Homo sapiens: one gene and its partners. The protein of the gene in region 1 interacts with the protein of each later gene in a biochemical or structural test. Each region holds a gene or a part of one and is shown in the gene's direction. Other genes may lie near its edges.

The links.
Region 2: the proteins of SRF (region 1) and MYOCD form a complex in vitro, tested with the Homo sapiens proteins (one study listed by BioGRID).
Region 3: the proteins of SRF (region 1) and ELK4 are reported together in a solved structure, tested with the Homo sapiens proteins (one study listed by BioGRID).
Region 4: the proteins of SRF (region 1) and FHL1 form a complex in vitro, tested with the Homo sapiens proteins (one study listed by BioGRID).

Annotation. Positions count from the first base shown.
Region 1 is NC_000006.12:43,173,625-43,181,430, forward strand, and holds part of SRF (serum response factor), read left to right. Parts: intron 1-222; coding exon 223-489; intron 490-2,081; coding exon 2,082-2,343; intron 2,344-2,923; coding exon 2,924-3,043; intron 3,044-4,669; coding exon 4,670-4,861; intron 4,862-5,181; coding exon 5,182-5,258; intron 5,259-5,470; coding exon 5,471-5,566; 3' UTR 5,567-7,806. UniProt on the Homo sapiens protein: SRF is a transcription factor that binds to the serum response element (SRE), a short sequence of dyad symmetry located 300 bp to the 5' of the site of transcription initiation of some genes (such as FOS).
Region 2 is NC_000017.11:12,668,313-12,676,118, forward strand, and holds part of MYOCD (myocardin), read left to right. Parts: intron 1-3,549; exon of another isoform or gene 3,550-3,879; intron 3,880-7,806. UniProt on the Homo sapiens protein: Smooth muscle cells (SM) and cardiac muscle cells-specific transcriptional factor which uses the canonical single or multiple CArG boxes DNA sequence. Acts as a cofactor of serum response factor (SRF) with the potential to modulate SRF-target genes.
Region 3 is NC_000001.11:205,628,654-205,636,717, reverse strand, and holds the start of ELK4 (ETS domain-containing protein Elk-4), read left to right. Parts: upstream 1-4,706; 5' UTR 4,707-5,086; intron 5,087-8,064. UniProt on the Homo sapiens protein: Involved in both transcriptional activation and repression. Interaction with SIRT7 leads to recruitment and stabilization of SIRT7 at promoters, followed by deacetylation of histone H3 at 'Lys-18' (H3K18Ac) and subsequent transcription repression.
Region 4 is NC_000023.11:136,207,025-136,212,638, forward strand, and holds the end of FHL1 (four and a half LIM domains protein 1), read left to right. Parts: coding exon 1-166; intron 167-767; coding exon 768-937; intron 938-1,430; coding exon 1,431-1,617; intron 1,618-2,218; coding exon of another isoform or gene 2,219-2,418; intron 2,419-2,846; coding exon 2,847-3,001; 3' UTR 3,002-4,330; downstream 4,331-5,614.

The DNA of each region.
Region 1 (7,806 bases):
GGGTATCTTCAGGTCAATGGGGCTGCTCCTCAAAGGAGGAGCATGGGTAGTTTTGCTGCTTCCAGAGATCCTGATAGGACACCCTGCCCTCAGAGTCATTAGAGACGAAGGTCATTATGGGAATGGGGGAATGACATCACTGTATAATTCTTTTTCCAACTTCTCAAGGAAGGTAGAGATAAAAAGTTTGCTGACCTGCCCATCTCCCTCCTCACCCCTCAGGCCTATGAGCTGTCCACGCTGACAGGGACACAGGTGCTGTTGCTGGTGGCCAGTGAGACAGGCCATGTGTATACCTTTGCCACCCGAAAACTGCAGCCCATGATCACCAGTGAGACCGGCAAGGCACTGATTCAGACCTGCCTCAACTCGCCAGACTCTCCACCCCGTTCAGACCCCACAACAGACCAGAGAATGAGTGCCACTGGCTTTGAAGAGACAGATCTCACCTACCAGGTGTCGGAGTCTGACAGCAGTGGGGAGACCAAGGTGTGTTTGGGTTGCCTATGTGAGAGGAGGGAAGGGAGTGGGGTCCCTCTCCCTTTCTGGCCCAGGACAGGTGGATAGGTGCCCACCGATGTGGAGTGGAGCCGGATTAACGACCCTCGTCCTAGGGGACAGGTGTCCATCCTCACTTTCCTGATAGAAGACCGCCCCCCTAGATAAGCGGGCGGCCTCCGTGCCCATATAAGGCCGGCTTGGGCTCCACGCCGGCCTCCCGCCCGCAGCCCGCCTGCCTGGCAGGGCCTTTGCATTCCTCCCGCCAGCTGTCTCCCCGCTAGGGGCGGGGGTGTAGTTTAGCCCGGCCCTCCGGGCTGGGTCGCCAGGGAGTAGAAAGGGAGCACTCCGGTCCCGGGGTCCTGGGAATCCAGCACTCTTGGCAGGCGGGCTGGTTGACTGGGCCGGGGACTACCTTACAAGCCAGCCGCTGCCCTTTCAGGGTGTTGGGGGCCTGGGCAGTTAGGGAGCGCATTTGCCTGCTGCTAGGGATGCCTGCGCTGTTACTCCTCCCCCTTCCTTTTCCCGGTAAGGAGAGGGGGTGGGGCTTCCTCCCTTGCTGTCTGGGGAGCTCCACCTTCCGGGTGGCACTTAACTGACTGGCCAATGGGAGGAAGCGGCACTGTTTGCCTTAGCAACGCCTCTGCCAATCAAGGGTCTTGGGCCCAGCTGCTTTGCAAACGTCTCGTGCTGACCCACCCCGCAGCCTTTGAGCCTCTGGTTGACTCATTTCGGGTCTGGGCTTGGTGGCTTGGTTCTCAGTTTCCTTCTTCCCCTTCTAAGAACGAAGTCTTCCTTAGGGGAGAGTCAGTGCTGTAGGCTACCTCCTCTCTTAGTGGCATATCATCTGTAATAATTTTTAAACTTTTATAACAGTAGGGCTCATTTATTCCCAGGAAATTTTGTTGGATGAGTACATTCTTTTGGTAGTTTACATCTTGGGTGTTTGACATATAGTGTGTCATTGCCAGATTCTCAAGATCTCTCTCAAACTCTTAAGTTCCCTGAGAAACTCAGTTCCTATCTCAGAAGCCTGACAAATTAGAGCTGGAAGAACTCTTTGAAAGAAAACGTAGTAGCCCAGCCCCCTCATGCTTATAGAAGAGGAAAACCGAGGTTCAGAAAAGGGGACTGGTTATTTCAGGGTCACTTAGATGGTCATTACCAGAGCTAGGAACAGACCTTGGTGTCCTGACTCCCCAGCCAATGGGATTACCACAGTCCGCTGGAGCAGAGAACTCAGGGGATTATAATAATGACAATGATAATAATTATCATAAGAGCAGCAAATATTTATTTTGGTTTTTTTATGTGCCAGGTAGTGTTTTCTAAGTGATTTACATATGCTAACCTACTTAATCCTTACAGCAACCTAGGGGGTAGGTATTATCCTCCTTTTACCGATAGAAAACTGTAGCTCAGTAGATCAATAACTTACCTAAGAGTCAGGCATCAGGTAAATGGTGGCGTTGGGATTTGAACCCAAGCTCACTGGTTTCAGTCTGGGTTCTCAGTCCACACAAAGCTTCTGCAAAGGCAGGATCTGGTAGGGGCTCATTGCTTCATCTTTACTCTGGGTATAGGACACACTGAAGCCGGCGTTCACAGTCACCAACCTGCCGGGTACAACCTCCACCATCCAAACAGCACCTAGCACCTCTACCACCATGCAAGTCAGCAGCGGCCCCTCCTTTCCCATCACCAACTACCTGGCACCAGTGTCTGCTAGTGTCAGCCCCAGTGCTGTCAGCAGTGCCAATGGGACTGTGCTGAAGAGTACAGGCAGCGGCCCTGTCTCCTCTGGGGGCCTTATGCAGCTGCCTACCAGCTTCACCCTCATGCCTGGTGAGTCACGAGGGGCAGGGAGAGATTCGTCCTTCCTGGGGCAAATCAAGCATGCTAAGAGTGTGTTTAGGGCTGGCACCAAGAGAACCTCTTTCCCTGCTCAGAAGGAAGGTGAATAGGGGCCAGAGCCTGAGCGAAGCCTCTTATATCCCGTTGGCAGGCATACCTCTGCCCACTGAGACCCCTGCTGTCCTTGTCAGTAAGTTTCAACCATATATTCTGGCCCTGTCTAGCTACCCCAGCCCCGTGCCCTCATTGCCACAGGGCAGTAGATGTTTCACCACTTCCTGCCTTGACTGGAAGGCAGATCATGTCTTTGATGGGTTATTGCCAGCTCTTGGGTCAACTGAAGAAAAGAGAGACAAGGCCCAGGGCAGGAGGAGGAGGGATGGGCAAGAGTAGAGCGTGGAAGCCCCCAGAGTGGATACTTGGGCCTGAAGGGCCTCTTTGGCTTCCAGGAAAGATAGTGATGGGAGTTGGAGACCAGTGTGCCAGACCCTGGGACTGGGGTGTCCATGGGTACTTGGTGGAGGTGGCAATTGGGTGGGACAGAGCACAAATAAGACTCTGTGTCTTGCAGGTGGGGCAGTGGCCCAGCAGGTCCCAGTGCAGGCCATTCAAGTGCACCAGGCCCCACAGCAAGCGTCTCCCTCCCGTGACAGCAGCACAGACCTCACGCAGACCTCCTCCAGCGGGACAGGTATAGCTCGCAGCCCTGTCACCCTCCCTCCCTGCCTTCCCCCACGAGGCCTAGCAGTAGGTGCCCAACAGTAACCCTCCTGTAACTAAAGTCAGGGGATTTCTTAAAGTGGAGATTGAGGCTTTGGGCCTAATAATTATGGGGAAGTCAGGTGAGGATGACTGGGTTTTGAATCCCGCCCTGCAGTGGGCTGCGGATTCCAGAAGAAAATTGGGGACCATTGACCTACCTCCTCATTCAGATGAGGAGCCTGAGGCCTAGAAATAAGAAGTTACTTGCTCAAAGACACATTTGCTTAATTATCAGGAAGGACTTAGAGAGCAATTTTCTCTTTGTGCGAGGGTCTTACAGGTTTTGAGTAGCCACAGTTACCCTCAGGTATCTCTAGACATTTCAGAAATGATGAGATACTCTCAAAGTAAGGTTAATTTTAAGTTCTTATTATTTATAACCTTTTTACTCAAAGTGTGGCCTATGGACTGGGAACACCAGCATTACCTGGGAGCTTGTTGGAAATACAGAATCTTGAGTCTCACCCCAAACCTAGTGAATCGGAGTCTGTTTTTTTTTTTTTTTTTGAGACGGAGTCTCGCTCTCTGTCGCCCAGGCTGGAGTGCAGTGGCACCATCTCGGCTCACTGCAAGCTCTGCCTCCCGGGTTCACGCTATTCTCCTGCCTCAGCCTCCCGAGTAGCTGGGACTACAGGTGCCCGCCACCACACCTGGCTAATTTTTTTGTATTTTTAGTAGAGACGGGGTTTCACCTTGTTAGCCAGGATGGTCTCGATCTCCTGACCTCGTGATCCGCCCACCTCGGCCTCTCAAAGTGCTGGGATTACAGGCCTGAGCCACCGCACCCGGCCCAGAGTCTGTGTTTTAACAAGATTCCCATATAATGCACGTTAACATTTGAGAAGTGCTTGTTTGAAAGATGAATTTGTTAGCTGTGCATTAAGAAGGAGAGAGAGGCCGGGTGCGGTGGCTCACGTCTGTAATCCCAGCGCTTTGGGAGGCCGAGGGGGGCAGATCACGAGGTCAGGAGATTGAGATCATCCTGGCTAACACGGTGAAACTCCATCTCTACTAAAAATTCAAAAAATTAGCCGGGCTTGATGGCAGGCATCTGTAGTCCCAGCTACTCGGGAGGCTGAGGCAGGAGAATGGCATGAGCCCAGGAGGCGGAGCTTGCAGTGAGCCAAGATCGCGCCACTGCACCCCAGCCTGGGTGACAGAGTGAGACTCCATCTCAAAAAAAAAAAAAAAAAGGAGGGAGAATGAGAACAAATAAAAAATAAGATGTTAGAGCTCCTAAAAGGGGAGTATCTGAGTTTTCTGAGAGTAGGTCAGTCATAATCTTTGTTTTTCCCAAGATTTAGGACTTAGAGAATTCAGTAGATAGACAATTGAATAAATAGTACAATGTGATAGGATACAATTAAAGATTGATGCTGTTGTGTTCAAGAAAAAATAGGCTTTTCTTAGTTGATGATGGAGCTGAGGAATAGTCGTGTCTAGCTTCTGACCTGGGAAATGGCAAGAGGGCTCTGGGGGCCTGGAATTCCTAGGGACGGAATGGGAGTTATCAGTGGGGACCAGTGCCGAGCTGACACATGTCTGTGTTTGCCAGTGACGCTGCCCGCCACCATCATGACGTCATCCGTGCCCACAACTGTGGGTGGCCACATGATGTACCCTAGCCCGCATGCGGTGATGTATGCCCCCACCTCGGGCCTGGGTGATGGCAGCCTCACCGTGCTGAATGCCTTCTCCCAGGCACCATCCACCATGCAGGTGTCACACAGCCAGGTCCAGGAGCCAGGTGAGTAGAGGAGCAGGGCTAAGGAAAGGAGGACCGTTTCCTTCTTTATACACACACACACACACACATACACACACATATGCACTGATGCCTACAAATATTTCTACCCAAATACAACACAGACTTGGATGCTCACACACACATTTGGACACCCCACTTGGACACTCACACCCGCATGCACCCTCAGACACACTGGCACCCTTTCCCTTGGGCTCTTACATCTGAGACTGCCCCAGTCACTTGTGCATTTGACACCACTCCTCCAATATCTGGAAGTTTCAACAAACAATTTGAGTATCTCCTGTGGTTTTCCAATGTAGGTGGCGTCCCCCAGGTGTTCCTGACAGCATCATCTGGGACAGTGCAGATCCCTGTTTCAGCAGTTCAGCTCCACCAGGTAGGTAGGGATATCTTTCACCCCATCCCAGATAGCCACTTCTTTGTCTTGACCTTAGGGGATCCTGTTACCAGTTCATCAAAGCCAAAATCCCTAGCCTGGAAGCCCATCTGCTTTTCTGCTCAGGCCTGTGGTTGGCAGGCAGGGAAGCCAGGGGAGCCTGAACTGGCTGGCCAGTCCCTGCCCCTCCTCATACATCCCCTTCCCTCCAGATGGCTGTGATAGGGCAGCAGGCCGGGAGCAGCAGCAACCTCACCGAGCTACAGGTGGTGAACCTGGACACCGCCCACAGCACCAAGAGTGAATGATCCGCCCGCCGCCCTGGACAGATGGCCCAAGGGATGGCACCACTTATTTATTGTTGCCTTTTCACGTTTTCTTTACACACACGTTGACGGGCCGCAGGAGGGAGGCGGGGAGGAGGAACGGGCAGCCACAGGACTGAGCCCTCTCACTCCAGCCAAAGAAATGGGCCTGCCTGCCTCCACCCGTCCTCCCTCAGCCTCCCCTTCTTCCCGCCCCACCTCCCATTTCTGTTGCTGGAGGGGCTGTCCTCCTTCCTGGGACCCCCTCGCCAGCTTGGCTCGATGTTTGCCATGAGTATTAGCTTACCCAATGGGACCGTGCCCCACCTCCCCACACACAGGCCTTCTGTGGGGCTGGGCACCGTGTCCTCCTCTGAGGAAGCAGTTGGGGCCCTCTTGCCAGCCTCCTTGCTGACCCCAGGTCAGCCCTGTGTCTGTCACAGGCTGGGTCAAAAGAGCCCTGGCTCTGCCCCTCAGGGGGCCAGCTGGGGAGATGGGGGCTTCTTCCTCACACTGCTGTCCTCTCCCCCTTCAGCTCCTGAGTAGCTGGGCCTGTGCACTGGGCAGGTTCCTGGGGCCGCCTGCCCTGCCTTGCCGCTCCCCTTGGACCTCCAGGGGCTCCTGGGTTGGAGGGAACCACCAGCGTTCCCTTCTCCCCCTTGTCTTCCCCCCTCTCCTCCCAGCTGCTTTACTTAAAGTTGATTTTGAACTTTTTATTTGAGGAGACGAAGTGAAAACAAATCTATAAATATATATTTTTAAAATATTTAACTTTTTTTTATGGCGTTTTTCTCGTCCCCCTCCCTGCCCAAACTCCCCTTCCCTGGGGAGCCCTCAGGCTCCCCAGAACTGGCTGGGCCCCTGGGGACAGAGCCACCCCATGAGCTCGGGGTCCACCAGTGTGTGGGGGAGATTCTGGGTTTGCCCAGTCCTGGGTTGTTTCCAGGAGAAAGCCGGGGGAGGGGCCCTCAGGCCATTCCCCAACGGGGTGGGGAGGGTGACCCACAGCTCTGGGCCTCTTTTTGCCCTTTAGGGCTGTTGCTAGGGAGAGGGAAGAGGGAGACCAAATGTCGGGGTTGGGGTGGGAGGGCGTCAGGCAGAGGCAACTGACTTCATTTGTGCCACACGCATGGGCATTGCAGCCTTGCGCTGTCCCAGGCATGCAGCTGCCTGGGGCCCAAGTTGCAGTGAGCAGGGTGGGGTCTGGGAGGGGGTGAGAGGCAGGAATGGGGGTCAGAAGAAGTGGGAGCAGCTTCTTGGGCTGAGTGCAGCCAAAGGGGAGCCAGAAATGGGCAGTTCTCCCAGGGAGTGAGCAGCTACTGTAACTTTTTTAAATTAAGACAAAAAGCCTTGAAGAAAATGACTTTATTTTTCTAAGTGTAACCTCAGTATTTATGTAATTTGTACAGGGGCCATGCCCCACCCCCCTCCTCCCCCTTTGGGGTAGACCTTGAGGGTGGGCCAGCATAGGGGGGAGGGTCTTTTACCCTGTGTCAGAGCCTACCTTCACCACCTATATCCAGAAGGGGAGCTTTTTCAGAAACAGGGCAGCAGTGGGGTGAAATTTTCTTAACCCCTAAGACTGCCTTCAGTAGGAACAAGCTGGCTTCTGTGATTAGGTGAAGGGATGGGGGAAGATTTTATGCACAGCCTAGTTATCAAGGGGATGATTTGCCGACATGTTTGAGAACCCCCTAACCTCTAACCCTCATTGCTGTCTTGCCCCAGTTTGGGGTGCCAAGATGGAAGTCACCTTTCTGGGCTTTCTCCTGGAGATAGCTGGGGCTTATGGGTGGCTTTCAAGGCTGGGGCATGGCAAATCAGGGGCCAGAGAGCAGGGGAGCTTGGGACTCAGGTCTGTAACTGCCCAGCCCCTTTTCTCTGCTCTTGTTTCACTCCACCATCACTCACTCACTCCCCACTCCCCCACCCATGGGGAGGAGACCTTTGATGAATTCTTCCTCTCCTTCCCACAAAAGACAGACCCAGTGAGTGAATCAGGCAAAGTGCTTATAATGTGTGTTGTGTGAGCGTGGCCTTGGGAGGACATGCGTGTGTCAGGGATGAGTTGAGGTGATATTTTTATGTGCAGCGACCCTTGGTGTTTCCCTTCCTCGGTGGCTCTGGGGTATGTGTGTGTGGGTGTGTGCGCCTGAGTGAGTGTGTGTGCTTGAATGTGAGTGTGTATGTCAGTGGTTTCTACTTCCCCTGGGATGCTGACCCAGGAATAGTGGACATGGTCA
Region 2 (7,806 bases), on another chromosome or scaffold:
TATCTCACTGCGAATATTTGCTTTGATAGTAGATCGTGGTATTATGTATTCCATTAAACATATTTCAAAAAATAAATGCAACAGAACCATTCTCTGATTACAGCAACAGACCCACTGTGACGGGGTTTATTTATAGGTGAGCAGATAACTGCTTTTACTCTGAAATCATCATCGATGTCAACCATGGCCGACCAACTTTCTATAAGCTGTATTTGAGTGACCTCGTGATTAAGGACAAAATTGTGCTACAGCAGCAGTAAGCTCTGAAAGTTTACATGTATGAACATGTTTAGTGATATAAACTCATTTGAGAAGCCAAAGGGTGTCCTGGTTGAGTGCGTGGGTCTCGGGGGCCAGACTAGCTGGGTTTTTCATAGTGGTCTCTGCTTACTAGCTACATGACCCTGAGCGTTAGGTAAATTACATAATTCTCTGTGCCTCAACTTGCCTCACCTGAATAAAGAGGATGACTATAGGGTCATTGTGAGAATTAAATGTGAAGTAGAGAACTTCGAAAATGCCCAGGCCTTAGAAGGCTCTTACAAAACATTTTTCTATTATTAATATTGATGTGCAGTGGGACCGGCGGTTGGTCAGTTTCTCTGTCTCAGTTATTTAATCGGTAAATGTTGAGGTTGGATTAGGCAATGTCTTAGACCCCTTTGGTAACATTTTATCATTCTCTGAAAACACATAAAGATTGACTGGGAACAAGTGTAACTGTGATTGTGCTGTGTGGCAATTGTGTGTGAAGGAGAGGCAGTTTTACATGAATGTAGTAATTTGTGCTGATTTTAAACTAATCACATTTTTACAGTTTTTAATCTTCTCATGTTGTTTATTCAATATCTAATCAGTGTCACTATCAACAGTTCTCCTCCATATCAATCCTTGTGTCCTACAAAACACACAGGGAGGTACGTATGTGTGCCACACACAGGCACACACAGCCCTCAGACATAAAGGATCAAAAGTGGAGAGAGAGATCCATGAATGGATGTTGCTTCTAAAGAATCATTGTGTTTCTTTTGCTTCTCTCTCTCTCTTTCCCACTTCCCCATCTTAAACCGCGCAAACAGAGGCAAAGTCTGGCAATTGCCATGAACTTGACCCCACCCCCACAAATATAACCTTGTTCAGTTTAGCAAATAAAAATACAGAATGCTCAGTTCAATGTGAATTTCCAAGCAATAGTGATTACTTTTTCACTATATAGCAGTACTTGGGACATACTTTTCTCTGAAATCCAAATTTCACTAGGCCCTGTTATTCTTTTTGGCAACCCTACCTACAATCTGAGTGTTTTTTGTTGTTTTTTTTTTCTGAGACGGAGTCTCGCTCTGTTGCCCAGGCTGGAGTGCAGTGTCACGATCTCGGCTCACTGCAAGCTCCGCCTCTGGGGTTCACGCCATTCTCCTGCCTCAGCCTCCTGAGTAGCTGGGACTACAGGTGCCCGCTACCACGCCCGGCTAATTTTTTGTATTTTTAGTAGAGACAGGGTTTCACCATGTTGGCCAGGATGGTCTCGATCTCTTGACCAATCCGAGTGGTTTTTGATCAACACTTTCTGCTGCCCCATCCAATATCCTATCAAGCTCTTGAGATTCTCTGGGTCCCCAAGGACTCCCCAAAATGCAAAACTTGTACTTTAGGCATGAAAGCAGAAAACTCCAGATGGGGTGGGGGTACCATGAGAATGAACCCTAGGTCCCCCAGAGTACAGCCAGCTTATGGGTGAGGAAGAACATGGGAGCTTCACCTCTGGTCTCTGGTCGTCTGGCAAGGAGGAAGATAAGCTCAGCAGGCAGGCCGGTGCTCAAGCAGCAGAGGCTCCAGAGGTTGGAGCTGTAGTTAAAAGAAGGCAAAGAACATGCAAAGCAGGTACTCAAGAGGCTGTGGCTGAATTCAGGTAGTGGGACCCACCCCACTGTGTTCTTCTACTCCAATAGATGCAGGATCAGGCCCCTGGTGCCTGTAATTGGTTGCTTGTCCTTTCAGAGAGGGCAAGGGACATCTCAGCAAGACCCTGCAGTCATCTCTCTCTGTCGTTTCTCTATTCTCCATCCTTCAGACAACCTAAAAGGACGACTGATTCCTACTTTAAGCTAAATCCTCAACATCTCTGGCACTGAATTTTCTCTCTCAGGAATTGAGCTTAGCCTAAGAAGTCGGTCCCCAAGATTTTTATCATAATGGACAGTACTGAAGACATTTTCACCATGAGCTCGAGAGAAGCCCAGACTATCTACCTTCATTGGCAATTAGTTTTCTAGTTTAGAACAAATAATTTAACCTACAAGAGTACCTTTCCCATGATATGTAATATTTATGTATGTACATATAATTTAATTCACCTTTTTAGATCTCATTTTTACTTTCTACAAAATAGAGGGTTTTGACTGGTTTCTATTTCAAGTTGCTTTTAGCCCTAAGATTCAATACTTTTCCAAGGGAATGGCCCTAAATATTTTTGTAAATGCTTGATCAAAGCATTACATATGAGAATACAATTTAATGGACCTTAAAAAATGAACATATTTTAATTTCTACATGGAATGTAAAAGTTAAAGGAACATTTGGGGTCTGGCTCAAGCCACCTGCTTGAGACCATTCCTGTCTCCTCAAGTCCAGCTGTATTCGATTCACTCACAGCTCCCATGCCCTTCCCTCACCATCTTAATCACTATAGCAAGAACCCCAACCCCCACCTTCCCTGCCCTAGTTTTATTCATAGCTCTTATCACTATTGGACAGACTAAACCTTTTACTTGTTTATTTGCTTATTATTTGTCCATAACGGCAGAAATTATTACTTGTTTATTCGTGTTTGGTTTTTACTGTCTTTATTCTCTAGCACCTAACATAGTTTATAGGGTATTTTCCAGTCATTTCATATCATCTATGCTTGGCACAGAGAAGGAACCCATTAAATATATGTTGAATAAATAGGTTTTATTCTTCCTCTAAAGTCTATTCAAAAACATCAAAAACAAGCAATATAGGTTTATTGTTAGATGTGCGTTTGTGTGTACTAAAACTAGAACAAAAAGGAGAGGAGTGACTATAAATACAAAAGTCAAAGTCATAGCACAGTGGGAGAGGCTAAATAAGGAGGTAGGGGTGTAGCCGAAAGGTAAGAAGCAGGTTATCCCTATTGTTCTTAGGTTAGGCAGTAGTTGTGTCCATGTGTTATTAAGCAAATTAATTAAACAAAGGTCATCTATGGCTCAATGACGATAGTGTGACAGTGTCATGAACCAAGGATTGTGATTAATTCAATTCTGTGTACCCAGGATACTTTTTTAAAAACATATAAATTCTTTAAGACCAGGAAGAGTGGCATTTGTCTTTTATCTGCTACAGCATGTGACAGAAACAGTTAGCAAGATTGTGTCAAGTTGGCTTGAACCAGATTGAATGTGCTCTACTCTAATTGGATTAAATTGAAGAATAACAGAAGTGCAGGGCAGAAGCAAAATACTCCACCCAGGGTTAGAATTTTACATGCTTCAAAAAAGCCAAACCTGAATAGGAGATGCTAGAACAGGCTGCTTTTCATTTCCTTTATTTTCATCTAATTAGCAAGGCTTCCCGAGCATCTAATGAATGGTGAACAGGTACCCCACATCTCTGTCCAGATCAAGGGGGAGGAGCCAGCAGGTGCATTTCACAGGTCTCTGCTTTCCTGGTTCCATTCCTTCTGTCCTGTGGGCCAAGTCACAGTGGGAGCCCATCTGGGACTCCGTGGTCTTGGGAATATGTTTATATTCCCAGGGCTCTCTGGGCCTCTGTTTCCATATTGGTAAAATGACTCATGGTCTTCACATCCTCATACTTCTATGAGGGAAAGATCTTTGTAGAATTATTAAGGGTTTCTTTCTGAAAAGAAGGAAATTAGTGAACCTTTATTCACTGTGTGGAAATGGATAACTGGATCTGGTGGCATGTGAGTTGCATAAGAGTTCTTGCTTATGCGTGGAGTAGTTAAAAGTTTTCGATGAACACAAATAGGATTAATAACAACAACCATGACCATTAGCCCAATAATAGTTTTGCAGCCTTACGACGTTAGTACTTTGAATTTCTATTTTATTAGGCAGATAATGCTTATATGTTTCAGAATAGCTAGTAAGTCAAGCTGTCAAGCTTTACGTAACGAGATTTGGATCATTATTCTTAGATAAAACAGAAAGAGGTGTCCAATTTTTGTTAAAATAAAATGTATCATTTATCCCCAGAAATTTAGAATAAATAAAACTGTTTTGTGACTTTTGTTTTTCCAGAGCATAGCAAAATGAAGGGAGAATAATGTCTTTCTTTTCTCCTGCTGGTGAGGGAAGATAAGTTCTTTCTTTTCACTATTGGGGTACTTCTCTTATGAGTACAATCCCTCTGACTCATGGATGTTTGCTGTATTCAGCTACTTTAGATCACTAGAGAAGAAATTGAATTCAAAGTGAATTAAGCCACTGTAATATTGTGAGATGTATGTATTGGGTTCTCCTAGCTCTCACTTGGTTTGTGCAGCAATGATTAATGGATACACAGACCCTCAAATACTTAGTATGTCTTTATCAGCAATCCCTTCTGACACCTCAGTTTGAACTACTGCATTGAGTAAGTTTTCCCTTCTCAACTTGTATCTCCTTCCCCTTGGCCTCTTAAGTGGTACGAAAGCATCAAATTAGTTGTTTCTCATAAAATATGGTCAAATAACTCCAGGCAATATCCTCATTTCACAGATGATGTGAAATGACTAGAAAATACCCCATAAACTATTCTGCCTTTTCTATTTCCGGAAACACTCTCCTTAGGAAGCCAATCTTGTTTTCTGCTGACTGGTTGGGCTGGTTTTTCAGTCCTAGGTAAAGTTCCACAAGGAACTTTCTGTTATTTATTTGAGACTTACTGCCCTGTCTGGAGCTTCTAAAAAATGATTTCAAAAAAGTTAAATCCAGAAAATGCTGTTCAACATTAATTGAACAATAGTTCAATAGTTCTCCTCAATACATTATATTTTTTGTCATTTGTGTTCTCTTTCTGTCCTGGTCCAGTTGCATAAAGATTTTTACAACGTGATAATCAGAGTATATACATAAGTTTATACTCAGCCTTTTTATCGTTAGTATAATAGCATAAATATTTTTCAAGCGGCTACATAGCAACATAGTTTTTGCTTTAAAGACTGTATAATATTCCCCCAAGTGAGTATATAGTAATTTACTAAACCTTTTCCACTTGTATTGGAAAATTAAGCCAGTTATAATCTTTATATTATAAATAACACTACTATGAAAATCTGTATGCATAACACTACTGTGAAATCCTTCATGTAAAGAAAGAAAATATTTTCCTCCCTTTGGATTGTTTTGTAGGCTACTCATTATTTAGAGTAAATGCCTAAGTGTGGGAATAATGGATTTGAATATTTATGAGCTGTAATGATGGCTAGTGTTTTTGGAGCACTTACAATGTAACAAACTTAACTTTAGGCCTATTTCTATTTGGCGATGAATGCTTGTCCCTACTGTACAACTAACTCAGAGTAACCTTGGGTACTTACCCAATGGTGGCTGGTATCTGATGAGCCTTTCATACCTTTTCAGTAGAGATTGAAAAGGAAAATGAGTAACAGTTGCCTAATGCCTTTGGAAACTTCCATGTGGTCTGCTATTTAGGGACCACGTGTTACCAAATATGACTCATGCCTCATCAAAAGGGAAGAGAAGAGGACTAGGAGTTACTGAACCTATTATCTGTGGGCACCTTTATCATCTCATTTAATCCTTACAAAAATGTGATTATTCCTATCTTAGAGATGAAGAAGCTGAGGCTCAAAGATGTTAGACAACTTGGAGGCCAGGTATGAACGTATTTGTTCCACTGTCCCATGATGATTATCTCTATTATAACCTGCAGCTCCTTTCCTTCTTTCCCTGCCCCACCGCATAACCATACACACATACCTGACCCAGTAGATTTAATGTGCCTCTTTCTGGGCTACAACTCCAGGCATATATCCAATTACTGCTATCGTCCTTGATTTCCTAAATAGTGATTTATCAAACTAGTTGTTTCTAGTACTTAACCTATAAATTACACATGCCATTCCTACAAAGTCCCAGGGGTTTTAATAAAACTTGACTTTTTAAACTTCAGTTTATTTGAGAAAAAAAAATTAAGAAATTTTTGAAAGGCAACAAGAAGAAGAGATTTGCTCTAAGACATTAAACATAGTTATATAAGAAATATCTAGGAGTTAGTACCAGAAGTAAAACAGACAATTATTATCAGTGGATGAGAATTGTGTATATGTGCATGCATACACATATATACACTTATGTATATACGCATAGATTTAACCTCTGATAACAGTGGCTGTCCACTGTTTATCTACAATAAAATATGTAATGGGTTTGTTGAGAAAATTGACTATCTCTTTGGAAATAAGTAAATTGAGATATTTTATGATATACCTTAAAATAAATTCCGTATGGATTAAAGAGCTAAGGAAACCTATAAAATATTTGAAGAAAACAGAGGAGAATAATCTTTTCATCTCAGTGTAGGACAAGCCTTCCCAAGCTTATGGCCATGGCCAGGTTAGAAATAAAAATGGACATATTTGGTCACTTAAACACTTTAAAACTCCACATTAAAAAATCATCAAAATAAATTTAAAATCAAACTGTAGATTGAAAAAAATACTTGAAAATATACGTGAGACAAAATTATTAAAAGGACTTATATGAACAATAAGATTTAAAGCAAACAACCTAAGGGAAAGACAATTCAAGGGAGAAAATAATCAGTCAGCATATGAAATATACTCAACTCACTAGCGTTCAAGAAAATGCAAAGTGAAAGATCTAGATACTATTTTTTAAAAACTTCAAATTAGCAAAATTTTAAAATGTTGATAATATCGAGTATTGAATAGGCATGAAGACATAGATACACCTATCGTGTTGGTGAGCTATCCATACTGTAAAGTCTTAACAGATACAATTTTATCACAGTTTATAATGCCTAACCTAAAAAAGATGGAAACAGCATAAACATCATCTGTAAGGGAACGATTCATTAAATTACAATATATTCACAGTATAGAATACAATAAAACACAATGCAAAGCAAAAAGAAATGATAAAATTCTATATGAACTGATGTGAAAAGATCTCCAAAACGTAGAATTAATTTTTTAAAATTCAGGTTATAAAACAATCCGGCAACATATTTTCATTTATGTTTTTTAAAAAGTATTGGCCAGGCACGGTGGCTCACACCTGTAATCCCAGCAATTTGGGAGGCCGAGATGGGTGGATCACGAGGTCAGGGGATCGAGACCATCCTGGCTAACAGGGTGAAAACCCGTCCCTACTAAAAATACAAAAAATTAGCCTGGCACTGGTGGCGCAAGCCTGTAGTCCCAGCTACCTGGAAGGCTGAGGCAGGAGAATCGCTTGAACCCAGGAGGCGGAGGTTGCAGTGAGACGAGATCACGCCACTGCACTCCAGCCTGGGTGACAGAGCAAGACTCCGTCTCAATCAATCAATCAATCAATCAATCATATTTATATATAAGTACACAGAAAAAAGAAGTTTCAAAGATATAAGTAGAACTGTTCATTATGGTATCCATGGGTACAGAGAGCAAGACCTTATCTTTCCTTTACCATTTGCATCTTTTAAAATAAAACTGTATTCGTATCTACATAATTTTTAAATACGCCTAAAACATAAGAAGAAATTGACATCCTAATAGTGGTGGGGAAAAAAAAACGTATCTGTAAGTCTTTAATAAAG
Region 3 (8,064 bases), on another chromosome or scaffold:
CTCTTTGAGTTTCTTCTGTAATAACAGCATAGTATCATATATTGGTGCTTCCTTAATTAACTTTAATTGAAGAAGTTTTTTTTCCAGACAGTGATTATAAAATACACCAGAGAGGAAAAATTATTTTGGCTTAAAATTCAGAGCAATATGTATTCTGCAAGGAGCTGGTCCAAACACCAGAATCTTAAACAATTATACAAAAGGCAGATTTCATGAGCTTTTATCAATTAAGGAACACCTTTTCCAAAGGTGGCTCACGCCTGTAATCCCAACACTTTGGGAGGTCAAGGTGGGCAGATCACCTGAGGTCAGGAGTTTGAGACCAGCCTGGCCAACATGGCGAAACCCCGTCTCTACTAAATACACAAAGATTAGCAAGGCATGGTGGCACACGCCTGTAATCCCAGCTACTCAGGTGCCTGAGGCAGGAGAATCGCTTGAACCCGGCAGGCAGAGGTTGCAGTAAGTCGAGATCCCATCACTGCACTCCAGCCTGGGTGACAGAGTGAGATTTTGTCTCAAAAAAAAATTGATATATTCTCTCTTCTTTCTCTATTACATATTCCATATCAATTTTTATAAGTCTAGAAATAATACATTTATCAAAGACCAATAAAATTACTTGAGGTTAAAAATATTAAAAGAAAATAAGTAGACTGGGTGTAGAGATCAAGAATGAAAATTATATGAAGCTATTTTCTGACCTGTGTTTGTGACAGGTCATCAAACATATTAGACAGTTGCTATGCCTCAGGCGGTAATTGCAATAACTCATGTCTCGTCATGTCCTCTCTGAAAAAACAATGTATTGTGTGGAGATTACAGCTAGTCCTGAAAGATGTTGCCATGAGTTTACTTCACAGTCTAGAGGCCACAAGTACCTTGTTCAATGACCTTCAGATTGGGTTTTCTCCGGACCCTTAATACCCTCTGATTAAAAGCCTTATTATTGGGGATGAAACGTTTACTGGTTATATTTGGTAAAGTTTAGGACCTTAACAGGTAGTAGGGGTTGCCAGTGCTGCCAGATTCAATATACAGCTAGCCAGAGTTTTCTTTTCAAAGATAACTTTACCTCTATCTAAGATCTCAGTCCACACAAATATAACAGCAATAGGGCTATTTACCAAGAGTTCAAAGCATCATTTGATCAACCGCTTTTTTTTTTTTTTTTTTTTTGAGACGCAGTTTCGCTCCTGTCACCCAGGCTGGAGTGCAGTGGCACGGTATCAGCTCACTGAAACCCTCACCTCCCGGGTTCAAGCCATTCTCCTGCCTCAGCCTCCTGAGTAGCTGGGATTACAGGTGCCTGCCACCACACCTGGCTAATTTTTTTGGTATTTTAACAGAGATGGGGTTTCACCATGTTGGCCAGGCTGGTCTTGAACTCCTGACCTCAGGTGATCTACCTGCCTCAGCCCCCCAAAGTGCTGGGATTACAGGTGTGAGCCACCACAACCAGCCTACTGCCTTTTTCTTTTAGTCTATCCATTACAGACATGAAGTGAAAGGTATGTCTCTTTTATTTCTAAAGATGTTGAAAGTGAAACCCAGAAAGGGTAAGTCGCAAGGATTTTCTCAGGAGGTTCAAGTTTTGAGTTTAGGGAGACCCAAAGGCTAGAACCCAGATATCCCAGATTTTTATTCTTTCTTCTCAGTCATGTTGCAATTTGCTCCACACTTGTCCCCACCTGGGGTTGTGGGTGCTGTCTTTGACTTAAAAGATATCTCTTCTTAATGTCACGTGCTACAGGATATTGCTTGAAAGACGTAACAGGCAACTGGATGGCTCCATGCTTGCTTAGTCAGTCAAAAATCCGTGAAACACTTCTTTAGGAAAAAGGGATAGTGACTGGGAGTAATGATGAAGCAGTGAAATAAAGAGAGGGAAGAGGAAGTTGCCTTGAGAAGTAATGATCATAACTAGGTGTTATTGGGATAGGAAATGTAATTAAATTAGGGGCAAGGGGTTGCAGAGCTGAGTTAACTGCAGTGATTAAGAAAAAAAATCTAGGCCAGGCCCGGTGGCTCACATCTGTAATCCCAACACTTTGGGAGGCCAAGGCAGGCGGATCACGAGGTTAGGAGTTTGAGACCAGCCTGGCCAACACGGTGAAACCCCGTCTCTACTAAAAATACCAAAATTAGCTGGGCGTGGTGGTGCACACTTATAGTCCCAGCTACTCAGGAGGCTGAGGCAGAAGAATCGCTTGAACCCGGGAAGCGGAGGTTGCAGTGAGCCGAGATTGTGCCACTGTAACTCTAGCATGGGTGACTGTGTGAGATTCTGTCTCAAAAAAAAAAACAAAAAACAAAAAACAAAAAACAAAATCTAGGGCAGGCCAGGTAGAAAATACATATTTAAACATTTTAAGCCAGGCGTGATGGGTCACGCCTGTAATCCCAGCACTTTGGGAGGCCGAGGCGGGCGGATCACCTGAGGTCAGGAGTTCGAGACCAGCCTGACCAACACGGAGAAACTCCATTTCTACTAAAAATACAAAAAAATTTAGCCGGGCATGGTGGCGCATGCCTGTAATCCCACCTACTTGGGAGGCTGAGGAAGGAGGCTCGCTTGAACCCGGGAGGCGGAGGTTGCGGTGAGCCGAGATTGCGCCATTGCACTCCAGCCTGGGCAAGAAGAGCGAAACTCTGTCTCAAAAAAATAAATAAACATTGTAATAAAATCTACAAATTTTCTTTGGGATGGCTCTGAGTAACTAAGGCTAAGATCAGGAATCCATCTATCTGGTGGGAAAGTGACCAAACAAGATAACGAAAAAGCAGTCTTTTTGGTTGACCAACGTAACTACCATGGAGTTTGCACAAACAGAACCATCTGTTGTGTGAGGAACCATGGAGAGAGATTGTGTATTTATAGAATCTTGAGTGGGAAAACCAGGCACATTAATTAACTTTTCCCCTCAAGTTCTCTAATTAGAAATCCACTTTTCTTCCTTTCTCTTCTGTCAATATGTACCGCCTTAAAAAAAAGTCAATTTAAAAGCAGACAGATTTGCTATGACTAATTTAAGAACTCCCAAAGCAGGCTGTTTTCCAAAAATACACTGCAATTGACAATGCCGTAAGCTCAGTCTAAAAGGGATATGACACAACTACTGGCCCTAAGGCCGAATCAGATGTTTACTGCCAGTTTGAACAGAGCAGCGTAGTGTGCAGATCTCCACAACCCTTAACTGTTCTTGGTAGGGGGCTTTAAAATGAAATCTTTTTATAAACAAATGTTTCCAATAGGTGTATCCTAAACAGCCTACCTTAATACTTTTTTTTTTCTTGGTTTCCAAGATGGAACTTGTTGCAAGGAAAATTTTATGTTAGGGGCCAAGACTGCTAGTGCTTTTCAGATACTGCATGTTCCTTATAAAACATGTCTTAATATGTTTGCATGCTTTGGTAAAACTAATTTTGGAAAGGTAACATCTTTTGGTAGAGTTGTTTTTACAGGAATAGCTACCTTTGTGGATTATAATTACTCTGTATTATGGAAGAGGAGGCTGGAAATCAAGGAAGTGATGATTCTCTTCCAAAAGCCTACAAAAGGATGACAGAATCACATTTCACTCAGTGAGTTCAATTAACTATACATTCAATTGTGGGGGCAAAAATAAATGACACCACGATTTACTGGGTATCTACTATGTGCTAGGTAATGCACTAAGTACATTATGCTCTATACTTCATTTAATCCTCTCAGCAATGCTGCTCATTATCGTCATTTTACATGAGGAAACTGAGGTCCAGAAAGGTTAAGCAACTCACTACAGGTCACACAGCTAGTAAATGGCCTCGAATAACCAGTAACTCAGACACTGACCTCTCTTTGGTTTCTTGTTAAACAAACACCTAATTTATTTCTTGGAGGTTTTGTTCAGCTGTCCTAATTTATGACTTTACATTCCTTCTGGTGCTAAACTGCTCAAGTAGCCTCTTGTATCAAGTGTGACCTGATTCCTTAAGAATTTTACTTAATGAGAACCTCTAAGCTAGAAACTCTTGCTAGGTGTTTCATGCACCTTATTTTCTTTAATCATTACAACAACTCTAAGATTGGGTTCTCTCCACCTTATAAATGATGACTGTTTTAGAGAGGTTAAGGTTGCTTAAAATTGGTGAGTTAGTGAGGGGTAGAGCCACGAATGGATTTCTGGTCGCTGCCTCCATCGTCAGGGCAAGCTTTTCCCACGACTCCAGCGCTTCCATTTGTCAGTCCCCAGGCTAGAAAGCCACAGTGCTAATTTAGTATTTATCAAGCGTTTGTAGTGTCCTGGGATCTGGCACTTCGATGAGAAAGCTGTGACGGCCCCAACTTCTAACAGCGAGTGGTAAGGAGGACGAGGGACACAGGAGGGAGGAGACTCTCCCCAAAGCTTAGCACCAACAGAAGTGGTCCCCCGCAGGTTGCTCTGCGAGCGCCACCTCTTCCCTCCAACCGAGGAGAAAGTGGCGCGCCTTTGAGGAGTCCGAGGTCCCGGCCCAGGCGGCAGCTTGGGTCCTGGCGGGTTCCGGACGGGCGCCTCAGGGACCTGGAAGCAACCGCACCGAACGCGACGGAGAGCGGCGAGACGACTCCAGGAGGCGCCCGAGCTACATCCCCCGGCCACACCAAACCCGGGTTTGCTGGCAGACGCGGCTCACGACACCCCTTAGGGTCGCAGCCCCTCCCCCGGAAGTGACGTGTAGCGACTACGGCGTCTGGGAGGGACCCAGGAGCAGTCGGGGGGTTTGAGAGTGGCGGCGGCCGCGGAGGGCCTGGCAGGCCCCGCCGCTGCAAGGAACGCCCCGAACGCGCGCGCCCGGCGTGTAGCGGCCCCAAGACCCGCGCCGCCGCTGCCGCGTGCGGGGGCGGGGAGGGCGGGGCGCCAGGAGCCGCGGCGGCGGGAGATGCGGGCGGCTGCGGGCACCCGGCGGGCTCGGCTTGGCCGCCGCCGCCTTCTACGGCTCCGCCGCGGGGGTCGCAGCGGCTGCCGCGCCGTCCTCGAGTTTCCAGCGTGAGGAGGAGGCTGAGGGCGGAGAGGCGCATCGTGTTCGAGGCGGAGACCGAGGGGGAGCCCCGCGCGCGGCGTCGGTGAGCGGTCAGCCCCGCGCGCCCCCTCGGGATCTCGCGGCCACAGCCCCACCGGCCGGGAGCGGGGGCGGGGGCCGAGGGGCGCGCGGCACAACAGGAAGTGGGGGCGGGGGCCGGGGCCGGGCGCGCGCGCTCCCCTTGGGTCCGCCCCCGGCCCGCCGGGCACCGCGGCGCACAGGTGGACGCCGCAGCGCACCGCTCAGCTCTCGTCGCCTCTTGGTCCCCCGAAGTCTCGTGGGCGAAAGGTGGCGGCGATTTTTTCGGCGTGGATGGGGAGGAGGGGAGCAATTCTCATTTTCTGTAGTGACAGGAAGTTGGAAAATGAAAGTACAGTAATTCAGTGCTTACCAAGGCCCGGTGAGGTTGCACCTCTTCCCCCAGACTTTGATCTCCTGTAGGGCACACGCGGCCGTCCGCGTTTCTTCCTCTCCCCTAGCTCGCTAGTCATCCGGTGTCGAGTTTCATTTCTTTTTCTCTTTCGCTCCAGCGGCCCCCCGCCCCTCTTTACTTTCCGCCTTGTGCACAGCTGCATCGAGGCTGGTAACTTCATTCCTGGGAAGATCAATTGGAAACATCTTTCGGGGCGGGATAGTAACTGGCCTTGGAAGGAAATAGGGATGTTGTTGACTGAAGTAGTCAAAAGTACACACTTCACTTTTTCTCCAGCTATTGCTATTTGAAATTTGGGGAATTTAAATAAAGATTCTGGAGTTCTATGCCTCATCAGAATGGTTTGTCCATCTCTTTGGTTGATAGATCAGATCCTCTGTCGTCTTTTCCCACCCCCTACACCCCCTGGCTTGGAAAACTTGGTGCTTCAATATTTAGGTTTGGCAGCGGTGTTTTCATTAAAATGTAGTATGATTCAATATTTTCCCTTCAGGAACACTCTTCTCTTTGATTTTACTTAAACATTAAAACTGCGTAAGTGGAATCTGTTCATTCCTAGTGAGGTAGTGTCTTTAAGTTTTATTGTAAGAATATTGTAAGAACTGTGCAGGATCCTATACAAAGAGTATTTTTTAGGAGCCTGTGTAGTTAAAAACGTCATGTTACTTTTGGTTACTTTTTGACAACGGTGAGTATTTTGATTCGAAACTAGGCTTGATACATTCATAACTTGGTTTTTTAAGTAGCAGGCTGAAGAAAATTTGGAGACTTTGTGTTTTTTTGGGTCTTAGCTACTGTCTCTGAAAAATAGTTGGGCTATGGGTCACCACAGCAACTGGACTGTGTGTATTATAAACATGTTTAGGGTGGAAAAGGTTTTATTTAATAGAGACTTCCTTTCCTTAATACATTACTTCAACATGCTCCCTTTCAATTTAGGACAGGGATTGGTCTATCTTTGAAGTGTTAAAATAGAATCAATTATGTTTTCAGCCTTTACCCCCTCAAAAATCAAATACCTTCATTTGGACCAGTTAAGTGTTTTCTTCCTTTGTTATAACTTTAAACTTTAAAAATTGCAATTGTGGAAAACTCGGGATTCCTGTAAGAAGGAAAATCAAGTAATTAGCCTCTTTTTTTTTTTTGATAGGTAACAAGAATAAAAGGTTTTGTTTGGTTTTGTTTTGTTGTGTTTTTGTTTTTGTTAGAGACAAGGTCTCACTCTGTTGCCCAGGCTGGAGTGCAGTGATGTGGTGTCTGCTCACTGCAACCTCCATCTCCCGGCCATTCTCCCACCTCAGCCTCCCGAGTAGTCACGCACTACCATACCCGGCTAATTTTTTGTATTTTTGGTAAAGACAGGGTTTCAACATGTTGCCTAGGCCAGTCGTGAACTCCTGAGCTCAAGCTCCCCCCTTGGCCTCCCAAAGTGCTGGGATTACAGGCATGAAGCAACCACATAATTTTTAATAACTGTCTTAGGGGATTTTTTTTCTTTAGCTTTTATTTTATTTATTTATTTTTTGAGACAGGGTCTTGCTCTGTCGCCCAGGATGGAGTGCAGTGGTGTGATTTCAGCTCACTGTGACCTCCGCCTCCTGGGTTCAAATGATTCTTCTGCCTCAGCCTCCCTAGTAGCTGGAATTACAGGTGCCCACCACCACGCCCAGGTAATTTTTGTATTTTTAATAGAAACGGGGTTTCACCATGTTGGCCAGGCTGGTCTAGAACCCCTGACCTCAAGCGATTTGGTCTCCCAAAGTGCTGGGATGGTAGGCGTATGCCACTGTGCCCGGCCAGCTCTCTTTTATATCTGATGAAATCATTGAAGATCATTGTTAATACCACACTTTTTGAAACTAAAATGAAGAGTTTTGACTTAACTATGTAAGAAGACGTTGGCTGCTTTTCAATCAAAAGAATAACGATATCATAATTGAATTAATAAAATATTCCTTTAAAGTACCCAGTGAAAATGTCCACTTTATATCTTTTTCTCAAAATTCATTTCTAATACTTCAGTCTAAAACCTCAAAGCCATTTTTTTCTTTTCTTTTTTTTTTTTTTTTTTGAGACGTAGTCTTGCTCTGTTGCCCAGGCTGGAGTGCAGTGGCACGATCTCGGCTCACTGCAAGCTCCGCCTCTCGGGTTCACGCCATTCTGCCTCAGCCTGCCGAGTAGCTGGGACTACAGGCACCCGCCACCACGCCTGGCTAATTGTTTGTATTTTTAATAGACACGGGGGTTTCACCTTGTTAGCCAGGATGGTCTCCATCTCCTGACCTCGTGATCTACTTGCCTCGGCCTCCCAAAGTGTTGGGATTATAGGCGTGAGCCACTGCACCCGGCCAAAGCCATTTTTTTTTTTTTACTGTCCTCAACCTTCTATCGTAGACACACTGTAGTTGCTAAATAAGCATCAGCATTTTCCACAACAGCTCGGTTCTACCTTAAAGCAGCCAACAGCTCACCAGTGTTTGACTAAATACATGCTGCTCCACTGATAACCAACAGGGAAGGTGCAAGTTAAACCTGTACCATCTGGGGAACACCTGTTATTTTGGGGAGTCTCCTTGGGTGCTCATTAT
Region 4 (5,614 bases), on another chromosome or scaffold:
TATAAGAACCGCTTCTGGCATGACACCTGCTTCCGCTGTGCCAAGTGCCTTCACCCCTTGGCCAATGAGACCTTTGTGGCCAAGGACAACAAGATCCTGTGCAACAAGTGCACCACTCGGGAGGACTCCCCCAAGTGCAAGGGGTGCTTCAAGGCCATTGTGGCAGGTACTGCCTCCTTCCCACCCCGGGTTCCCAGGGAGGAGGCCCTGAGGGCAGACGTGATGTGGGCTTGCTTATCATGGTGGGGCTAACGTTGCTCTGAGCTGCTTTGAGATCTTAGCATATATATGTACACATATACATACACGTATATATGCGTACACATATATGCTCGCACACACGCACACACTCGGAGACTAAAGAACACTGGCGAGAACAGCCTGTGGCAACAGAATGAAGTGAACAGTATGTAGCGCTTTCTCATTTGGGCGTAGTAAGTGATGAAAGCATGCTTCTTCCTCAGGGTGTCATTCTGGGCCAGGCAGTCCCTGATTTAATGTCTAAGTGCACGCAGGGTATAGAGGTGGGGGAGTGGGGGATTCAGGCACTGGATCCTAAAATAATAATGCTGGGGTCCCCACCCATGACAGAAATCCTGGGTTGGCACAAGCACAAGTAGAACACAGGTAGGTTAGTTGGAGGTGTGAGGCCAGTAACTGCAGGGCCTGCATCCCCTCACCTCTGGAGGGCCTGGGGAGGGGAGCTGAGTGGATGCAGCCCCCTGCAGAGCCTGTCAGTGGGGCTATCCAATTGCTTCCCTCTGCAGGAGATCAAAACGTGGAGTACAAGGGGACCGTCTGGCACAAAGACTGCTTCACCTGTAGTAACTGCAAGCAAGTCATCGGGACTGGAAGCTTCTTCCCTAAAGGGGAGGACTTCTACTGCGTGACTTGCCATGAGACCAAGTTTGCCAAGCATTGCGTGAAGTGCAACAAGGTATGCTTTCAAGGGAGTTCTGCATTGACCGTTGTTTCTAGAAGTGTTTGACAGTTTGCAGAGCACTTCCACACACACTATCCCATTCCATCCTCACGACAGCCCTGTGACGTAGGAATTATTATTCCCGTTTTACAGATGAGGAGATCGTGGATTAGGAAGCAGTGCCACAGCCAAGTCAGGCTGTCAGTACGCATCCTCAGCCTGGTGGTGCGGGTGGCCCGTATGGCATGCTGAGCTGGGCAGCCCTGGCTCTAGAAGCCTGCCTCCACCACTTAGGGGCTGTGTAACCTCACATAGGGGCTCACCTTCTCCGAGCCTTGGTGTCTTCATCTGTAAAGTGGGGATAATAATAGCCCCTGCCTCCCATGGCTGTTGTGGAGATTAAATGAGATATTGTATACCAAAGCGCCCAGCACAGTGCCTGGCACGCAGTAGGCATTCAACAAAATGGTTGTTGAATCTGAATCCGGTGCTACACTCCCTGGTCTAGGCCATCACATCTGGAGGAATCACTTACCAGGATCAGCCCTGGCATGCCGATTGCTTTGTGTGTGTTACCTGCTCTAAGAAGCTGGCTGGGCAGCGTTTCACCGCTGTGGAGGACCAGTATTACTGCGTGGATTGCTACAAGAACTTTGTGGCCAAGAAGTGTGCTGGATGCAAGAACCCCATCACTGGTAGGCTAAAGAGTCCTTGCTAAGTCTGCCAGGCTAGGTTTTGCGCATGGTAACCATCTCTCATTTTCCTGTCGTCGGTTTCATCCACAAAGGCCCCCAGAGAATGCCCTTCTCCCCCTGCTATTGTGGTCCCAAAGGCCCCCCAAGAGTTTGGATTCGTCCCCAGGCCAGGTTAGCCTTTGCAATACAGAACACTTCCTGACTGTTGACTAACAATGCTGAGAGTTCACAAGCCTGAGACCTGCCAGCCAACACCGGCAGGCACTGCCACTTTGCAGGGGGATTCTGGGGGGAGGGGTGGGAGGAGGGTAGAAAGAAGGGGGTGGGGGAGGGTGGGGAAGGGGTAAGGGAGGCCGAAGAGTGATAACCCGGGATTGTAATACCCCATAGCTGAAGGCTAGTTCAGAGATGCCTGTTGGCAGGGTTTCTTTTTTTTTTGGTTTGCTGTTTATTTGTTTTTGCGATCAGCAAAGCTAATCACTTCATTCCTCATCTCGCGGCCGCGATCCACGTGCCCTGGGCCCTTTCCCTTGCCTCCAATTTTCCCATCTTCCCGGGGAGCCTTGAAATGTACATTTGAGAAGACTTTTGCCATCCTCAGGGAAAAGGACTGTGTCAAGAGTGAGCCACCCAGTCTCTAAAGCTAGGAAGCCCCCAGTGTGCCACGGGAAACGCTTGCCTCTCACCCTGTTTCCCAGCGCCAACCTCCGGGGCAGGCATCCGGGTGGAGAGAGGACTTGTCCCTCGTGGGTGGTGGTTCTTTATAGAAAAAATCGAAGCTTAGCAGCTCCTCGAGGCCCGGTAAGTGCACACCCCACGAACAGCCCAAGTTTGCCTCCTGGTGGCCACTTTGATGTCATGGCCCTGACCTAAATCAAAGAAACTGGTTATGCTGGGAGGTCGGTGCGCGTCACAGGGCAATAGCGTGGTGGCATGGGAACGTGGGGTCTTTACATCAGGGAAGCCCTTGGCCGGGCTTCAGCATCTTCTCAGGTCCTTGAGAGCCACAGCAGGGTTGCGGCGGCATGGGGGACAATGGCGGCGTGGGGGACTGTGCACGATGGAGTGGAGGAGGGGGTCTGGGAGCCAGGCAGACCTGGCTCTTGCGTGCTTGTCGGTCTGTGAGTGGGGCAGGTCGTCATTTTATCTCTCTGAATCGTGGTTTCCTCACCTGTATTCATTCAGCTGTTTCTCTTGTTTTCTTTTCTTTTCTTTTTTTTTCCCCCCAGGGTTTGGTAAAGGCTCCAGTGTGGTGGCCTATGAAGGACAATCCTGGCACGACTACTGCTTCCACTGCAAAAAATGCTCCGTGAATCTGGCCAACAAGCGCTTTGTTTTCCACCAGGAGCAAGTGTATTGTCCCGACTGTGCCAAAAAGCTGTAAACTGACAGGGGCTCCTGTCCTGTAAAATGGCATTTGAATCTCGTTCTTTGTGTCCTTACTTTCTGCCCTATACCATCAATAGGGGAAGAGTGGTCCTTCCCTTCTTTAAAGTTCTCCTTCCGTCTTTTCTCCCATTTTACAGTATTACTCAAATAAGGGCACACAGTGATCATATTAGCATTTAGCAAAAAGCAACCCTGCAGCAAAGTGAATTTCTGTCCGGCTGCAATTTAAAAATGAAAACTTAGGTAGATTGACTCTTCTGCATGTTTCTCATAGAGCAGAAAAGTGCTAATCATTTAGCCACTTAGTGATGTAAGCAAGAAGCATAGGAGATAAAACCCCCACTGAGATGCCTCTCATGCCTCAGCTGGGACCCACCGTGTAGACACACGACATGCAAGAGTTGCAGCGGCTGCTCCAACTCACTGCTCACCCTCTTCTGTGAGCAGGAAAAGAACCCTACTGACATGCATGGTTTAACTTCCTCATCAGAACTCTGCCCTTCCTTCTGTTCTTTTGTGCTTTCAAATAACTAACACGAACTTCCAGAAAATTAACATTTGAACTTAGCTGTAATTCTAAACTGACCTTTCCCCGTACTAACGTTTGGTTTCCCCGTGTGGCATGTTTTCTGAGCGTTCCTACTTTAAAGCATGGAACATGCAGGTGATTTGGGAAGTGTAGAAAGACCTGAGAAAACGAGCCTGTTTCAGAGGAACATCGTCACAACGAATACTTCTGGAAGCTTAACAAAACTAACCCTGCTGTCCTTTTTATTGTTTTTAATTAATATTTTTGTTTTAATTGATAGCAAAATAGTTTATGGGTTTGGAAACTTGCATGAAAATATTTTAGCCCCCTCAGATGTTCCTGCAGTGCTGAAATTCATCCTACGGAAGTAACCGCAAAACTCTAGAGGGGGAGTTGAGCAGGCGCCAGGGCTGTCATCAACATGGATATGACATTTCACAACAGTGACTAGTTGAATCCCTTGTAACGTAGTAGTTGTCTGCTCTTTGTCCATGTGTTAATGAGGACTGCAAAGTCCCTTCTGTTGTGATTCCTAGGACTTTTCCTCAAGAGGAAATCTGGATTTCCACCTACCGCTTACCTGAAATGCAGGATCACCTACTTACTGTATTCTACATTATTATATGACATAGTATAATGAGACAATATCAAAAGTAAACATGTAATGACAATACATACTAACATTCTTGTAGGAGTGGTTAGAGAAGCTGATGCCTCATTTCTACATTCTGTCATTAGCTATTATCATCTAACGTTTCAGTGTATCCTTACAGAAATAAAGCAGCATATGAATAACCTGCCTCCTGTCTTTTCATTCTGCCTGGTGGAATCGCTATAAGGTGATACTCCTAATCCAGAAACCTAAATGACTTATTTTCCTTCCAGGATATACTCACTTTAGTGCAGGCGCACAGAACATAGGAATTATAAACAAACCTGTAAAAACCACACTTGATTGATAAATAAATAATTAAAAACAAACAGAAACCACTCTGACCTAAAATAGTATTTCCCAGATTTTCACATCCCTGAAAAAGAAAGAAAACGATGAATTGGTTTGATTTGGCCAGGGGATTAGGGAGGGAATCCCTGATGAAGCATGGCACTGAGAAGCCATCTTGGTCCCTGTTTGTTGGGTGCTTCCTCGGTGTGCCTTTCCCCTTGTGCCCTCTGGAGCCTGGGGTCCAGGTTGAACGTGACCATCTCAACTGCGGCTGCCTCCACCTGCCAGCTGAATGACACCCTCGCTCCTTCTTGTGGATGTGGCTCACTAAGGAAGCTGCCCATTTGGGCCCATGCACTTCAGTTAGGGGGAACATGCAGGGATGCCGTGGGCAGAGGCAGGGGGTTGGCCTGGCATTGAGGCTCCCCAGTTGCCGCTGCTTCTAGACTAGCACCACACACCAGTGTCTTTTGTTCACCTCTGAGGCTCGTGTTCTTGGGTCATCCAACCTGCCCACACCCATGTGGCCCTTACGGCACAGCACAAGAGGCCCCATGCGACAGGTGTCTGCTGCACTCTCCTGGTGGAAGAGGCTTCAGACCATAAGGGCCCCTCGTCAAAGTACAAGCAGAACTGGGTGGGAGGAGGGGGTGTTAGTCTTAACTGGGCCACATGCTGAGGGTGATAAAAGCAAAGGACAGAAGCCCTTTGGTGCTAACGTTTGCCTTCTGAGAAGGGAACTGAACCTGTCAGCAAGAAACCATGAGCACTTTTAGGAATGTGGCACATCCCCTTGTGTGTGTTTCCTTACAGAAATTAGCCATGAAAACCTTGAAACCAATGAAGTCTGTCCAGTCATGTGGGGCCCCAGGGACAGTGAGGCTGGCTCAGGGGATGGGGAGTGGCTGCCCTCACTGCTCCCAAGGGAGTGGGCTGAGTTCCTGAGGCTGCAGCAAGGAAAGGAGCCCCACGGGGAGAGGGGACAGAAGACAGGCCTGGGATGGAGAGGGGGCCCCATCTGCCTTCACTAAGGGCTTTGGCCCCGGCTTATGCTCTCAATCCATTTCGGCTGAGCCCTGGGCCTTCAGCATCCAGACGCATGCTCTCCTTCCTACCCACGTGCTCTTTCCCATTCC